Linked DNA regions of Homo sapiens. The protein of the gene in region 1 interacts with the protein of each later gene in a pairwise test. Each region holds a gene or a part of one and is shown on either strand. Other genes may lie near its edges.

Region 1 (3,500 bases):
AACTCTTGTCTTCCTCCTCCCATAATGCTGTCACCTCTCTACCCCTCCCCAGGACAAAGGGGCATCTCATTTGGCCAGCCACAGAAATACCCCAACGTACCTATTCTCTTTACTTGGACCTAGAAGACTTAGTGGAGAAAGAACATAATCTCTAGCAGAACTTGTTCAATTCTCACTTGAAGTCTAGAGGGAGGAAAAAGTCTTATAACAGAAAAAGGAAATAAAAATGGAAATCATCAAATAGGATGGCAAAAGTCACTTATTAAGAAAAAAAAAAACTCCTAAGATTAATCTTATTAATACTCAAAGAAAAAAAGTATGAACTAGTCAAAATTGAAGTGAGATTTTTGTGAGAGAAATGTGTCATATTAATACTGAAATATACCTAGTTAAATGAATTCATGAGAATAGCAAGGAAATATTGAAATAGAAGGGTAATGACTATGAACTAGTTTTACTAGTTATTAACATTTTATTTATTTATTTATTTTTGAGATGGAGTCTCACTCTGTCACCCAGGCTGGAGTGTAGTGGTGTGATCTCAGCTCACTGCAACCTCCGCCTCCCAGGTTCAAGTGATCCTCCTGCCTCAGCCTCTTGAGTAGCTGGGATTACAGACATGCGCTACCATGCCTGGCTAACTTTTGTATTTTTAGAGATGGGGTTTCACCATGTTGGCCAGGGTGGTCTCAAACTCCTGGCCTCAAGTGAACTGCCCGCCTTGGCCTCCCAGAGTGCTGGGATTACAGGTGTGAGCCACCACACCCGGCCTGTTAACATTTATTATAAAGCCACAGTATTTAAAATGATATGGTACTGTTACCAAAATGAGTCAGTGGGACAAAATAGAAAAAATCCAAAAATAGATCTAAGTCCCATGATGATTAAATATATGATAAAGATAAAGGCAATACTTGAAATCACTGGAGAAAATATGGATTATTTAAGTATGTTGTTATGACTGCATAAGCATTATTAAATATAATAGATATTTACCTCATTTTGCCAAAATCCAAATAGATTATAAAAGTTCTGATGTGAAAAAAATTAAATAAAAATACTAGAATAAAATTTAGTTGAGTCTTTATATAGGACTGTGGAGAATAAACCATGAATAGAAAGTTTGATTAGTTTGACTGCTTATACTCTTCAATTTGTGCATTCATGCCAAAACAAAATAGAAACCCCTTTCCCTGCCCCACTGCCAGCACAAACTTCAAAAACAAAATGAGAAAAAAAAAGAACAGATGATAAGTTGGGAATAATGTTTGTACCAGAAATGACAGATAAAGGGTAAATATGTGTAGTATAAAGGGACTTCTAAACATCTTAAGAAAAATAGTGATATTAGGTTGGTGCAAAAGTAATTGCAGGTTTTGCCACTAAAAGTAATGGTAAAAATTGTGATTGCTTTTTTTTTTTTTTTTTTTGAGATGGAGTCTTGCTCTGTCCCCCAGGCTGGAGTGCGGTGGCGCGATCTTGGCTCACTGCAACCTCCGCCTTCCGGGTTCACGCCATTCTCCTGCCTCAGCCTCTCCAAGTAGCTGGGACTACAGGTGCCCGCCACCACGCCCGGCTAATTTTTTTGTATTTTTAGTAGAGACAGGGTTTCACTGTGTTCTCGATCTCCTGAACTCGTGATCCGCCCGCCTCAGCCTCCCAAAGTGCTGGGATTACAAGCGTGAGCCACTGCGCCTGGCCACTGTGATTGCTTTTGCACCAACCTAATAGAAAAATAAATTGACACTAAATGTCAGATATTTTAGAAAGAATTCATGTTCTATGACCATGAAATCCTTTTCTTGGAATTTATCCTCAGAAATTAATAGTGCACATTTGTAGATATTTATGTATAAGCTCTTTTTCCCAAAGAATTGTCTATAAAAGCCAAGGGGGAATAAAAGAGACAACAGAAAGAAATGAAGAAAAAGGAAGAGAAATCGAGAAAAACAGGGAGGGAGAAGGAAGAAAAGAATGAAGGAAGGAAGGAAAAGAAGAGATGAAAAGAAGAGAAGGAAGGAAAAGAAAGAAGAACCGTAAATGTCCAACAATAGGAGATTAGTTGAAGAAATGTTACATTGTGAGAGCTGACAGCTAGTCAGTAACTAAAATTGAAAGATATTCACCCTAGCTTGTACAAGAAGAATCTTTTATGAAAACAACTATATGTAAATATATGCACAAATATAATCATGAAGACATCTGGAATCTGAAAGCTAGCCCAGTTATCTCTGGGGTAATGGTTTACAGCTCTGACTTTTCTTTCTCCACTTTGCATACATGTATTTTTTGTTTACAATTAGCATGATTTTGTTTTGAAAAAAATGTTTTTGATGTTATTCTGGGACTAGATGTCAGTAAATATTCTTGTCTGTAAATTCTGGTCTGTAAATATTCTTGCCTTTCTTGTCCTGGTTTCTCTCCTCCCGGCCCTTGTCCTGCCCATTAACTAGGAAGATCTTGCTGACCACCAAGGTCCTCCCTACTACCCTCTCCCCAGAGCTCCTGAACCATGAGTGATACACACTTCATATTTGTTCTTTAAAAGATTTTTGGCCATGCACAGTGGATCACGCCTGTAATCCCCACACTTTGGGAGGTTGAGGTGAGCAGATCACTTAAGGCCAGGAGTTCGAGACCAGACTGGCCAATATGGTGAAACCCCACCTGTACTAAAAATACAAAATTAGCTGGGCGTGGTGGCGCATGCCTGTAGTCCCAGCTGCTTGGGAGGCTGAGGCACGAAAATTTCTTGAACCTGGGAGGCAGAGGTTACAGTAAGCCAGGATCGCACCATTGCACTCCAGCCTGGGCAACAGAGCAAGACTCTGTCTCAAAAATAGATAAATAAATAAATAAAAGTTTCTCGTGTATTTTCTAATCCCCACAAAGAAACTGTAAGCTCCCAGAGAGAAGGAGGTGGGCCTGTGATTCCTCTGTCGCTCCCTTAGGGCTCCAGGTGGAGCTGACTGGCTGCTTTTGGGAGATGGGCTGGGCACGACTTCTCTGCCTGGGAGTATTGAAAAGATAGACTCTGGGCTCATGGGGTTGGCGCAGGCAGCTGGGAGAGCTGAGGCAGCCAGAGACCACAAACGGCACCGTGAGCTGGGTGGAGCTGGCCTTGTGGGAAGGAAGCAAGGCCTGCTGTTAAGGGTCTCTCTGAGCTTTTCCACATTTCCAATTTCCCATGGATAATCCATCATGTTCATCTGTACTTTTTGTCTCCATATCATGTGGACAGGTTCTAACATTCCCATGGACCAGCCCTGCTGTCGTGGTCTCTATGACTTTGAGCCAGAAAACCAAGGAGAATTAGGATTTAAAGAAGGGGACATCATTACATTAACCAATCAAATAGATGAAAACTGGTATGAAGGAATGATACACGGAGAATCGGGATTCTTCCCCATTAATTACGTGGAAGTGATCGTGCCTTTACCTCAGTAAATGTGTAACACAAACTCTGGACATACTTTCGTAACTGAAATGAATTCACACCA
Region 2 (4,231 bases), on another chromosome or scaffold:
TTGTTGGCTGATGAGTACAAAGCTTGGCACTGACATACTAACATTAGAATCATGCTTTCAAAACACCAAAAATTCCTCGATGGTATTGACTTTCTTTAAAAATATCACTGGAATTGTCAAATTTACCACTGCAGTATTATTTGAATGAAAACGATTAGGTTGAACTGTATAAAATGGTCCATACTTGAGCACTTTTTATACCAAAAAAACAGCAGTTTCAAATAATGCTACCTTATACAAAACCTACCTCAGGAATAGCCAACATAACAAGCAGCTTCTTTCTCTTTTCACATTCAAAAACCCTATATGCTTGGAGGCTGAGATAGCTTCCATCCATACTAAGTGGAATCTTTTTTATTTTTCATGAATGCAAACTCAGTAAGACAGACAATAGCCCTTCCCCCAAACCCTGCCATATTAATGGCCATTATTTGTAGGGCAGCTAGTTTGGGTGGGGGAAATAGATCAAGCAGACAAAGCTAACTGCTAAATCCGAGAACTCATTTACCCATGACATTAATCTCATATGGCACCATTTTCTATCAGGATTGTTCAGTCCTTATATTTACTAAAAAAAAATTGGGACAAAGTGTAAATTTGCTAACCAATGTAATTGATCAATAGATCGTTATTTAAATAATTTATTTCAATTCCCCTCTATATTTGTAAGGACAAACAGCAGACTTCTAAAGCTTTTTCCAGTAACTTCCTGATTTATGTATTCTTCACATAAAAACTGTGCTTCTACACAAAATTAGTGCTTCAGATGAGTCAGAATTTAGAAGAAGTAAATGTATAACCCAGTTTAGGTAATTGTTTAAATGGGTTAAGGAAAAGCTTCCAGCTTCCCCTTTTTGAGCCTTGATTACTACTTTCCTTCCCCCAGGGCTTCTAGCCTGCTTACCAAAAAAAGAGACAGAATTTGCAATTCTATGAATTATTGCACAATGTAAACCCAGTTTCCTCCTATATACATAGCAAACATAGAATTCAAATACACAAAGCACATACACTTGAGAATCACACTCAGACAACTTAACCAAACAACAAAAACACACCAGCCCCCAAAGGATCCCACCAGTGCACCTATCCATCAACACCCGCCAAGCCAGTCTGGCAGGCATCCGTCACCCAGCAAGTGGTCCCAGTAACTTCCCCTGCAGGCCCTAGGTCTGACTCTTAACCTCACACTATCATATGTACCTAGAGACATGAGCACAATTCAACTCAATCAATGTTTATTAAGCAACCTCTTTGTGCTGAATGCTGTATTCTTTTCTTTTAATTCTTCAGCCATAGTCCTGGTCACACCAAATGCAGCTTGGTTTAGTTCCCCAATCATCCCAGCCATTCGGGTCCCTGCACTGGCTCCATCCAGTCTCTCTAAAGCAAGAGTTTTGTTTGTTTGTTTGTTTTTTTAGATGGAATCTCACTCTGTCACCCAGGCTGGAGTGCAGTGGCTCAATCTTGGCTCACTGCAACCTCCACCTCCCAGGTTCAAGCGATTCTCCCACCTCAGCCTCCCAAGTAGCTAGGGCCACAGGTATGTGCCACCATGCCCAGCTATAAAGCAAGAGTTCTTAACTGGGTCCACATGTAGGATTAAAGGGTCCATAAACTAGGGTGAAAAATAATCTTACATCTTTATTTTCATTTTTGCCTCTAATGGAAATTTAGTATTTTCTTCAGTTATGTATGTAGACAACCACAGATATCTTCATATCACATTACAACTACTTAAGATATATTGAAATGTTATTTATACTCATCATTACTTTGAAGTTTGGTGGTTAAAAGACCTACCTGTAGATTTTGTTATGTAATGCATAAATAAGAAGCAAATAAATTACTGCATTATAATTTATTTAAAATATTTTGATACCTGTATTTCAATGTGACTGATTTCCTCTGTAATTCTATGCATTTTATTTTATGCATTTTAAACATTATTCTGAGATGGAGTCTATTCTCTTTACCAGATGTTAATGAAAACTGTAGCATAAAAAGTACCTGCTATCTGGTTTGAAACTATTCCATTACCTGCTCAACTCATCTGACTCTCCCTTCTACCTCCAAATTTTCTCTTCTTCCATCCTATTCAAACATAGATAAATGCCCCTAGATCAGGCAAGCCCCTCTGCATGGCCCTCAGTAGAGCCAAGTGAATCTTCCTGTTCATTTCTCAGTCTCTCAGTAGTCAATTTCCACTTCCACTCGCAGGTGAAATCTAGAACCTTCTTTTAGCATAGTCTAAAACTACTAAGTACTTTCATAACCTTTCTTTCCATCCAGTCATATCTGCAAGGCATAGTTATCCCATCAAGCCTTAATATCAGGCAAACCTTAAGGTCTCCTCTCAGTTTGGGACACAAAGCTTTTTTACTGTCTCTTGGGATGATCGGCCCAGGAAGATGAGTAAAGCCAGGGCCAAGCAAAACTGACAGATCTGGCAACACACACAAATGTTAAAACCAATGGAATCTTGTGCATGGGACTCAACCAAGCATTGTGACTCCCTGGAACTCAAGGATGTCTAGGTAAGCCAAGAACTGTCATTAGTAAGTCAAAAATTATTGCTAACATCAGAAATATATGGCATAGTTGTTCCTGTAGAGACCAAATTGTCCTGTTCCATCACTCAGCACCCTGAGTTGATGAACTCCTGTGACAAGAGAAACATAAAGGATTATGAAACTTACTCAGAAGGAGAAAGAAAGATGCCACATATGAGATGCCTGCCATTTGGGCCAGCACAGTCCTTTTTCGTCCCAATAGTGTCACTAACATTCAGAGGTTGAGTGACAAATGCTGTGCTCTCACTGCAAAGTAAAGAGGAAGCAAAAGTGTGGTTTTCAGCCCACTGAGAAATAGAGATGTCTTGTGAAAAGCAAAACTGGTTACATTATGTAGCTCTTTACTAATCACTCAAATTTGGGAGTAAAAAAGTTATCTTTGTGGTTAAGTAAACAGATATCGATAAAACTAAGAAAAGATGGGTCTCAACCTGGCTCACAGTATGTGTCATTTGGTAATGATGAGAGAATTTAGGTAAACTGAATAAATAAAAAAGGCACCAGCAATGTTGTCTTCTTGGCCCTTCCTTCTCCTCCTCTCTTGAGAGAGGAAATGACTGAGAAATGGGAGAAGGCCCCTGAAAAACATGAACTTGGGGCGACATGAGGTGGTGCTGAAGGTTACAGGCTCTAGAGTCAGGCTGCCTGGGTTTGCATGCAGATTCTAGTTTTAGTAACTGTGCAATCTTAGAAAACTTAATTAACTTTTCCTAACCCTCATTGCTAAAATGAGGATACTAATAGTAGGTACCCTGTAAGATTACTGTGAATGCCAAATGAGCTAATTTTTTAATTATTTTTTTATTTCTTTTTTTTTGTATTTTACTTTTTTTTATTATTATTATACTTTAAGTTCTAGGGTACATGTGCACAACGTGCAAATTTGTTACATATGTATACATGTGCCATGTTGGTGTGCTGCACCCATTAACTCGTCATTTACATTAGGTATATCTCCTAATGCTTTCCCTCCCCCTTCCCCCGACCCTATGACAGGCCCCGGTGTGTGATGTTCCCCTTCCTGTGTCCAAGTGTTCTCACTGTTCAATTCCCACCTATGAGTGAGAACATGCAGTGTTTGGTTTTTTGTTCTTGAGATAGTTTGCTGAGAATGATAGTTTCAAGCTAATTTATTTAAAGCACTTAGAACAATATCTGGTACATAGTAACTGCTCAATGAATATTAGCTACCATCATCACCATCATGAGACATTTAAGTAAATCTTCATCTGCCCTGTGAAACTGCCTTTGCAAAAATTGTAACAGTGAGAAAGTTATGACAGTGAAAGGGATCTGACCTCACCATCTCCATCTTGCTTCTAACTTCCAAGCTGCCCTTGTTAATTCCTGGTTGTAGGCCAAACTAACTTTGGGAGGAATTTAGCTTAGTTTAATTTTGAAACAAAGAGGATAACAGCCCTTTCTGGAAACAAACCCCCTTCTTGCCTGGGGAGCAGACTTCCCTAGTAAGACTAACAAATTAGCCACAACATTAGAAATTATGGTTTAGGAGTCATGCAGCCAGAGGCCACACAATTCCAACCTCCCCAACTGTTCCTAGGGATAACATCACTATTGTAAAACCTAAATTGGTGCTCAAGGTATTTTTCAGACCCTGCATCCTGATGCACCAGCTGACACCATCCAGGCTGGTGATC
Region 3 (3,995 bases), on another chromosome or scaffold:
AGGGCACAGCTAAGGCACAGTTTTGAGAGAAGGGCACATCCTGGAGCTGCAAATGTGTGAGTGCTGGGTTAGGAGGACGGATCTTCAGATGAGACTAATGTAGAGGGGTCCACATCAGGTAAGTTCCTAAAACGAGAAGCTGCCTTATCCCTCTGTTGCACGGCTCAGGGTCCCATCATAAAGTCTAGAGTTTGCTAAGCTGAAATGTCCTCTGCACTCAAGGACAAACGGAGTTAAGTGCAATTGTTTACAGTCCAAGAAAGCTCGCTGGCTGGTTTTTTCCTGGATGGCTGAGGTCACTTCTCAGTGACCTACAAGTCACGTCCACGTTTCTATTCTGCTCGGTGCGCTAACCTAAAGAAGAAACCCAACGTTTACTTGACTAACTTGATAATCAAGCCTCCCCCGCCGGGACACTTAATCTTTTAGGTACCTTCAGCCTACTAGACCCTGGTCCGAGGCACGGGTTCAGTCCTTTTTTTTTCCGTATTCTATTTTTCCCTCACAGTTAAAAAGTACTTCACAGTTAAAGGCGGCATTTTAGAACTGCAGCGTGAAGCCAGAGCGTTTGTCTTAGTGACCGGCCAACTTTCGGGCTCACTTTCGAGCTCTGTGGTACACCACCATTCTCAGATTCGACGTCTAACTCAGGAGACGCTGACCTTCGAATCGAAGGGAATTCGGAGAGTCTTGGTATAAGCCGGCTGGTTCACCGCTGTTAATGCCAGCCGAGAGGGAAAAAAAAAATTCAACCAACCAAAACAAAAGTTAAAAGCGCCACTCTTTCTATTCTTTGCTGTCTGGCAATCTCTTAATGGTGGCGTCTAGCAAACTGCAAATCAAGCTCCAGCCGGAGTCCGCAGGGCAGGGAGCGCCGGGTGCGGCCCAGTCCCCGCGCCCAGCGCGTTGGCGCGCACACCCCGTTTCTGCAGACTCAGGTTTTCTGGCCCCGCCTCTTTCGGGCCCAGCTGATCTCCACCGCCCGTTAGGCCCGAAACCCAGGCGCCTGGAGCCCTGCGCCCTCTGCTTCCGGCCCCCGGCACGCCCAGGGCGCGGGAGCGGCCGGGTCAGCCCGCAGACCTGAGTCCGGCCCGCAGCCTCGGGGCCCCGCGGGCGCAGCGGGGCGGGAGGCGGGGCGGCCCGGCCGTGGGCGGAGCGGCGGCCGCGGCCGTGAGCCTGCCCCCAACTCGCCCTCAGCCGGCTGGCCGGCGCGGCCATGGAGGTCTACATCCCGTCCTTTCGCTATGAAGAGAGCGACCTGGAGCGGGGATACACGGTAGGCGCGGGCCGCGGGCGGACAGGGCCCCGCGAGCCAGGCCTGCGGCTGCTGCGCCCAGGAAACACCCTTGGCCGCCGCCGCCTTGGCGCAGGGGGTCCCCTCGTTTTCTCTCCCCTCCCCCGGCCCAGAGGAAGGGCTGCGCCCTTGGCGCGGTTGTCAAGGAAACGGGCGCCCCTCCCGGGCACGGCGGCTGCGGGCGCCCCTAGCCCCTCGGGGTCCAACCCTCTCCTCCCGGACGAGCTGCAGTCCTCGGACGCGGCACTAGCCATTCTCCCCGCCGCCCGCCTTCGGGAGCCCAGGATGGGCTGCGTTCCTTTCTGGCACAGCTGCCCCCTCAGTCCAGACAGTAGTAGCTTCGCGGCAGATTCACGCTGGCTTCCAAGTTCTGTACAATTAGTTCAGCTGGAAAACCTGTTTTTTTTTTTTAAATCATAATTTGCAGCTGTTTATTAGCCAAACTAAACACGTGTATTGATTTTAGATGATTTCCAAAGATTTTTCTTTTTGAGTTGTGCAGTTCCATGAAATGGCAAAATTACTTGCTGAGCACCTGTTTCATACCTAGGACTGTGGTCACCGAGAAGTGTGAAACAGGACCCCTGCTCTCAAGAGTGAAGGGGAGGGCAGAGACCAGGGCATGGGCCCTTTGAGCAACACGTTTACTAAGTGAATTGTTGGTGGAGATTTCCCAATGAATTCAAAACATTCTTTCCTGGACAGTCATTGCTAGTGGGAGAAATGTCTGAGTGTGTGTACACCTTGGAAGAATTTACTTCCAGTTGTTAAAGAACCTGTAGGGTTGAAGAAAGATTGCAGGGCAGTCTGAAAGATTTGTTATTTTATTTACATCAATCACACACTTGCTAAACACCAGTTACATTACTTTGATGGAGAATATTTTAACCCCTCTCCCCTCCTCTAAATATTACTGGTATTTGGTGACAGTCTGTTTGGGCCATTGTGTTTTCTTAGTTGGGACTAAATTACCCTCTCAAAGGAAGATTTAGAATGAAAAACAGTGATTGAAAAAATAGTCCAGGAAGTCGGTGGGTTTTTAGAATTGAGTAGACTGCTGGATCCAAGTGTTCTGAAACAAGTTGTTAAAGTGCTTTCCTTGGGAAGGAAAATGCAGGGAGAGGGAGCTGTGTTCCATAGTGGTAGTTATTTATATAAATAATCCTTTCCAGTGCATTCACATTTCGTTAAATAGTCTGTATCTTCCTTAAAAACAAACAAACAAACCCTCGAGTTTGTTCAAGGCTTTTTTTTTTTTTTCTTGGAGATTTTATCCAAGTCTCTTAAGCCTAAAACCTTGCTTGTTGTTGCTTCTCCCAGGTATCTCACTTCTCCCATCAGCACTATCAACAGTCATGGAGGGCTTACCATCTTTGGGACATTCATTTAGGATCTGAAGATAAAAAGGCTGCTTGTTAGAGGCGTTGGCTTTCAAAGAAAAGATGAAGTTGATCTTACCGGTTCAAGCTAAAAGTTAATTACCTGCAGAAATAAGCACTTTGAAATAGACCATAATTAAGGCTCATTGCCCATTGTTGATTTTCTTCTATTAGACGAGCTGTGCTTTTCTCCCAAAGCTTTATGTATCTTTTTATTATTTGTATTTATGACCAGGCATGTGCCACACTCCAGGTTGTGAATTAAACTGATGTGGAAGGAGCTCTTTTTTGGACAAATTCGGGAGAGTTTGAAGATTGCTTATGTGATGAGAGTTTGCTCTTTAAATATTTGCTTAAAAAAAATCCTAACTCATCCAGATTGGGAGCTAAACTGTTAAAATCTCTCTCTCTCTTTTTTTTTTTGAGACAGTCTTCCTCTGTCACCCAGGCTGGAGTGCAGTGGGGTGATCTCAGCTCACTGCAACCTCTGCCTCCTGGGCTCATGTAATCCTTCCACCTCAGCCCCTGGAGTAGCTGGGACTACAGGCACATGGCACCACTCCTGGATAATTTTTAAATTTTTTGTAGAGACAGGGTTTCTCCATGTTGCCCAGGCTAGTCTTGAACTCCTGTGCTCAAGCAAACCATCTGCCTAGGCCTCCCAAAGTGCTGGGATAACAGGCATGAGCCACCACACCCAGCCCTAAAATACCTTCTGAAGGGATTTTTTTGCTTCTGTGAGTTTGTGAAGCAGTTATTAGATACTTTTCCCCTCTGCACAACTGGTTTTATGATTGTACAGCGGTTTTTCATTCAACAAATATTTACTGAGTGCCTGCTCTGTGTCTGTATTCTGGGTGTAGGGAATATAGCAGTGAATAAGCTATGAATATAGCAGCTTAAAAAAAACCCCAGAATTTAAAAAATATTTCAGTTTCCTAAATAAGAAGCTTGTAAAATAATGTACACTTTCGTGTAAAAAATATCTTTTTACTTTAGCGATTATGTTTGTGTGAATGTGTGTTTTTAAGAGCTAGGATCTTGCTCTGTCACCCAGGCTGGAGTGCAGTGGCGCAATCCTAGCTCACAGCAGCCTTGGACTCTTGGGCTCAAGTGATCCTTCCCCCTTGGCCTCTTGAGTAGCACAGGCATAAATCACCACAACTGGCTAATTTTTGTATTTTTTGTAGAGATGGGATCTCACTATATTGCACTGGCTAGTCTCAAACTCCTAGGTTTAAGGGATCCTCCCACCTTGACCTCCCAAAGTGCTGGGATTATAGGCGCGGGCCACTGAGCCCGACCTGTGTTTGTGTTTAAAA
Region 4 (4,082 bases), on another chromosome or scaffold:
AGTTGGGAGTAGAGAGAGTAGGAGCCAGGCAAAGACCCAAAGAGAGAGGGAGAAAATACCACAAGATGCATAGAAGGAAGTGCAAAGAAAGGAGAAAAGAGAGACAGAGATATACTCACAGCAAGGTGCAGAGACATGGAGACCCTATAAGAGATGGAAATGGAGAGCCACAGAGGGGGAACTGCGGGCACTAAGAGAGACATGGAGAGAACTAGAAAGATAGAGACGTGAACACAGACACAGAGACCCAGAGCCAAAAAGAGACAGAAATGGGGTCATAGGTGGACAGAAATGCACAGAGAGACTGTGAGCCCCCACAGACACAAACGCTGAGAGGGGCAGACATGCAGAGACACCCACAGAAATGCAGAGACAAAACCACCCGGAGACACATGCCGAGAAACACACTGAGGGGCTCAGAAAGCGACAGATGCAGAGAGAGCCCAAGACAGACCCAGCAAGGGGCCCCGAGAAATGCACAGAAACACAAAGACCGAGACCACCAGAGACAGAGGTACGGAGAGGCGGGGAGGGTGAGGAAGCCTGCTCTCCAGGGCTGGCTTGAACCTAGAACTCAAGGTCATGGCTTGGCTGGGAAGCGGGAGGGGGATACCAAAAAAGATCAGCGTTAGATGGAGGTGGGGAGGGAGGGTAGGTTTCACCCTAATTGACACCCCACCCTCCCCCTCCCCCTCCCCACACCTGCTTCCCGGCTTTAGTGCCTGTTGTCACCAGGATGGAATCCTGGCGGCAGACAAAGGGGTGGGGGTGGGAGGAGGAGACAAAAAGATGGACAGAGACAGAGGAGGAGACTAAGAAGTAGAGACAGACACACAGAGACACACAGATGGAGAGCCACAGAGACAACAGAAATGGGGGTCCAGAAAGAGACCTAGATAGAAAGAGGGAACAGAGAGAAGAAAACAGGAAACATTCCTTATAGCCCATGTGTCATTAGTAGGTCCTCCAAGGACCTACTGTGTGCCGGGCATGGGGACGTCAAAGCACAGGGAGCTATAAGGGAGGTAGTTGGAGCACCACGGGAGCCTGGGGTGTGGGGTGGGAGCAGGGGCGGGGCTCCTGGGCCATGCAGATGGGGTTGGCATGGGGTTGGGGAGGGGCCCACGGAGGCTTCTGGACTCTGAGTGTGGAGCCAGGGGCAGCAGGGCTGTCTCTGAACTCCCAGGCTTGTGTTTGAGCAAAGGAATTCTCTCCCCCTCCCTCTCCCCTCGGGGCGGGCCCGAGCCTCCAGCTATAAACTCCCCGGAGCTTCAGTGCCCTCAGCAAGGCTCAGCCTCAAGATTCACAGCATCTCAGACACAGCCTAGGTAAGGGGCTCTGCGGAGCCCTGTGGTCTTCAAAAACCATGTCCTTGGGGGAGGGGGCAGGAGGCAGGTGGGGAAGATGTCGGGTGTGGAGAAATGGTGCAGAGGTAGGTGGGGCATACAACTGGAGGTCTGGGAACTTGAGAGGCTCAGACTTTAGGGGGACTCAGGATAGAGGGGAAAATACTAGGATTTGTGGGTTACACAAATCCTAACCCGGGGCTGCCAGGACTTGGATGTCCCAGAATAAAACCTCCTAGGATCTTGGGGTTCTGGGAATCTGGGGGAAATCTCAGCAGTCAGGGATATCTGGACTTGGAGGTCAAACAATCTGGGTGTCAGGATTTGGGGCCTCAGACTCTGAGGGTATCAGGAATTGGGGGGGTCTCAGAAGAAATTGGGGTTTTGGTAGTGGAGGGCTCGGAATCTGAGACATTATGATAGAAAGCATGAAAACTTAGAGTGCCATTATCTGGGGTATCATGAACTGGGCCTCCGAGTTTGGGTATCAAGATTTTGGGGGTCTCATATTCTTGAGGTTTCAGATTTTAGGAGGTCTCAAGACCTGGGGGTGGTCTTAGGATGTCCCGGCCCATATCTGGACTATCAAGAACTGGGATTTCAGAATCCAGAGCTGTGAGGACTTGCTGGCCTCAGAAACACGGGCATCATAAATCGGGGTCTCAGAATCTGTGGGTATTGGGATTTGGGGCTAGGCACCCTGTGGCCTAGGGTGTCTCAAAGACTTTGAGGTCTAAGAATGTAGGGGTCAGGGTGAGGTCTACGGACAGAAGGTGCCCTTTATGCCCCTGCCCCCTACGTGATGTATGGGAAGGTGAAAGGGGAGACAGGTGGGGAGGAAACCAGCCAGTGGGGTGGGGCGAGTGGGAGAGGGGATGCGGGTGACTAATTCTCCCAGAAGCCCCCCTTCCTCAAATCCCTTCTTAGGAAATGTCCTCGGTTTCACCATCTATGACATCCCCCCAAAATAGCTCCTGGGGGTGGGGCAGCTATTGTCTTCAGGCCACTGTCCCTTCTCAAATGCCTCTTCCTAATCCCAACTGGATCAGGTTCCCATGGACTTGTCATAAGACAAAAGAGGACAGCTGTGCTGAGGGGGCAGGGTCTGCAGCCTCCTGGCTGTGCCAGGACCACACCTACCAAGGTCTGTCCTCATGCATGCTTTAGGACAGCCGGCCCCCTCCCTCAGACCCAAGAGTCCAGACCTGAGCCCTCCTCCCTCAGACGCAGGAGTACAGGCCCCCAGCCCGCTCCTCCCTCAGACTCAGGAGTCTAGACTCCCAGCCTCTCCTCCCTTAGATCCAGGAGTCCAGGCCCCAGCTCCTCCTCCCTCAGACCCAGGAGGCCAGGCCCCCAGACCCTCCTCCCTCAGACCCAGGCGTCCAGGCCCGCGGCCCCTCCTCCCTCAGACCCAGGCGTCCAGGCCCCTGGCCCCTCCTCCCTCAGATCCAGGAGTCCAGACCCCAGCCCCTCCTCCCTCAGACCCAGGTGTCCAGGACAACCCATCTCAGTCTCAGGAGTCCACACCCACCCTCCCACACACCCCCCAGCCCCTCCTCCCTCAGACCCAGGAATCCGGCCCCCAGCCCCTCCTCCCTCAGATCCAGGAGTTCAGGACCCCAGTCCCTCCTCCCTCAGACCCAGAAGTCCAGGCCCCAGCCCCTCCTTCCTCAGACCCAGGAGTCCAGGCCCCAGCTCCTCCTCCCTCAGACCCAGGAGTCCAGACCCCAGCCCCTCCTCCCTCAGACCCAGGAGTCCAGGCCCCCAGCCCCTCCTTCCTCAGACCCAGGAGTCCAGGCCCCAGCTCCTCCTCTCTCACACCCAGGAGTCCAGACCCCAGCTCCTCCTCTCTCACACCCAGGAGTCCAGACCCAGGAGTCCAGGCCCCCAGCCCCTCCTCCCTCACACCCAGGAGTCTAGGTCGCCCCCTCCTTGGGGCCCCACCCCACTGGGCCTCTTCTCTCTGGTCCTTAGGCCGCACCAGGATGTCGGACACCGAGGAGCAGGAATATGAGGAGTGAGTGCTGCACTGGGAGGGGTTGGGGCGTGCAGTGGTGGAGAGGCTCTCCCACCCCAGGTCTAACTCTCCCCTCCCTCCTCTCTCCCCACACCCGTCCGCAGGGAGCAGCCGGAAGGTGAGTAGGGAGTGGGCCGGCCCTATGGGATGGGGACACGCCCAGGAGCTCTTGGGAGGGGAGGCGAGGAGTGTGGCACTTTGGCGGGGAAGGGGCGGCTCAGCCCTCGGGCCCTCGCCCGCCCTCTCCGGGTCTGGAGCGTCTCCTCGCGCCATCCCTGCACCGCCAGGGGGAACGTGCCCATCGCAGCCGAGGCCAGAGGGACCCCCGTCCAGCAGAGACTGGAACCCTGGTCTCTGGCCACCGCCCCCATCCCTCCCCCAGCTCCTAACGCCTTCTCTTCTGTGCCCCCATCTCCAGAGGAGGCTGCGGAGGAGGAGGAGGAAGGTGAGGTCCCGGACTCCGCAGGTCTGGAGCTGGGGGGTGGGGGGGCGGGGACGCTGGGCCCGGGAGGAGGGGGCGGGATGGGGCTCCCGACGGCCTCGGCTCCCGGTCCTCTAACAGCCTCTCACGTCTCTTCCCTCTCTCCCCTCCCGCGCCCGGGCGTGGCCGCTCCCCCCTCGCTCCCCAAACCCTCGCTGCTCCTCCCTCCCCTCCCCAGCCCCCGAAGAGCCGGAGCCGGTGGCAGAGCCAGGTAACCGCGGCTGCTTCGCTTCCCGAG

Evidence for each region. Proteins that work in one complex are often made in the same cells at the same time.
Region 2: the proteins of SH3GL3 (region 1) and CD101 interact in a two-hybrid assay, tested with the Homo sapiens proteins (one large-scale study listed by BioGRID and IntAct).
Region 3: the proteins of SH3GL3 (region 1) and SNX24 interact in a two-hybrid assay, tested with the Homo sapiens proteins (one large-scale study listed by IntAct).
Region 4: the proteins of SH3GL3 (region 1) and TNNT1 interact in a two-hybrid assay, tested with the Homo sapiens proteins (one large-scale study listed by BioGRID and IntAct).

What each region holds. Positions count from the first base shown.
Region 1 is NC_000015.10:83,614,841-83,618,340, forward strand, and holds part of SH3GL3 (endophilin-A3), read left to right. Parts: intron 1-3,241; coding exon 3,242-3,447; 3' UTR 3,448-3,500. UniProt on the Homo sapiens protein: Implicated in endocytosis. May recruit other proteins to membranes with high curvature.
Region 2 is NC_000001.11:117,000,329-117,004,559, reverse strand, and holds the start of CD101 (immunoglobulin superfamily member 2 isoform 1 precursor), read right to left. Parts: upstream 2,801-4,231; 5' UTR 2,788-2,800; coding exon of another isoform or gene 2,743-2,787; coding exon 2,700-2,742; intron 1-2,699. UniProt on the Homo sapiens protein: Plays a role as inhibitor of T-cells proliferation induced by CD3. Inhibits expression of IL2RA on activated T-cells and secretion of IL2. Inhibits tyrosine kinases that are required for IL2 production and cellular proliferation.
Region 3 is NC_000005.10:122,844,418-122,848,412, forward strand, and holds the start of SNX24 (sorting nexin-24), read left to right. Parts: upstream 1-1,195; 5' UTR 1,196-1,216; coding exon 1,217-1,276; intron 1,277-3,995. UniProt on the Homo sapiens protein: May be involved in several stages of intracellular trafficking.
Region 4 is NC_000019.10:55,146,407-55,150,488, reverse strand, and holds the start of TNNT1 (troponin T, slow skeletal muscle), read left to right. Parts: upstream 1-1,282; 5' UTR 1,283-1,328; intron 1,329-2,395; exon of another isoform or gene 2,396-2,490; intron 2,491-3,320; 5' UTR 3,321-3,331; coding exon 3,332-3,363; intron 3,364-3,467; coding exon 3,468-3,481; intron 3,482-3,781; coding exon 3,782-3,808; coding exon of another isoform or gene 3,809-3,829; intron 3,830-4,022; coding exon 4,023-4,055; intron 4,056-4,082. UniProt on the Homo sapiens protein: Troponin T is the tropomyosin-binding subunit of troponin, the thin filament regulatory complex which confers calcium-sensitivity to striated muscle actomyosin ATPase activity.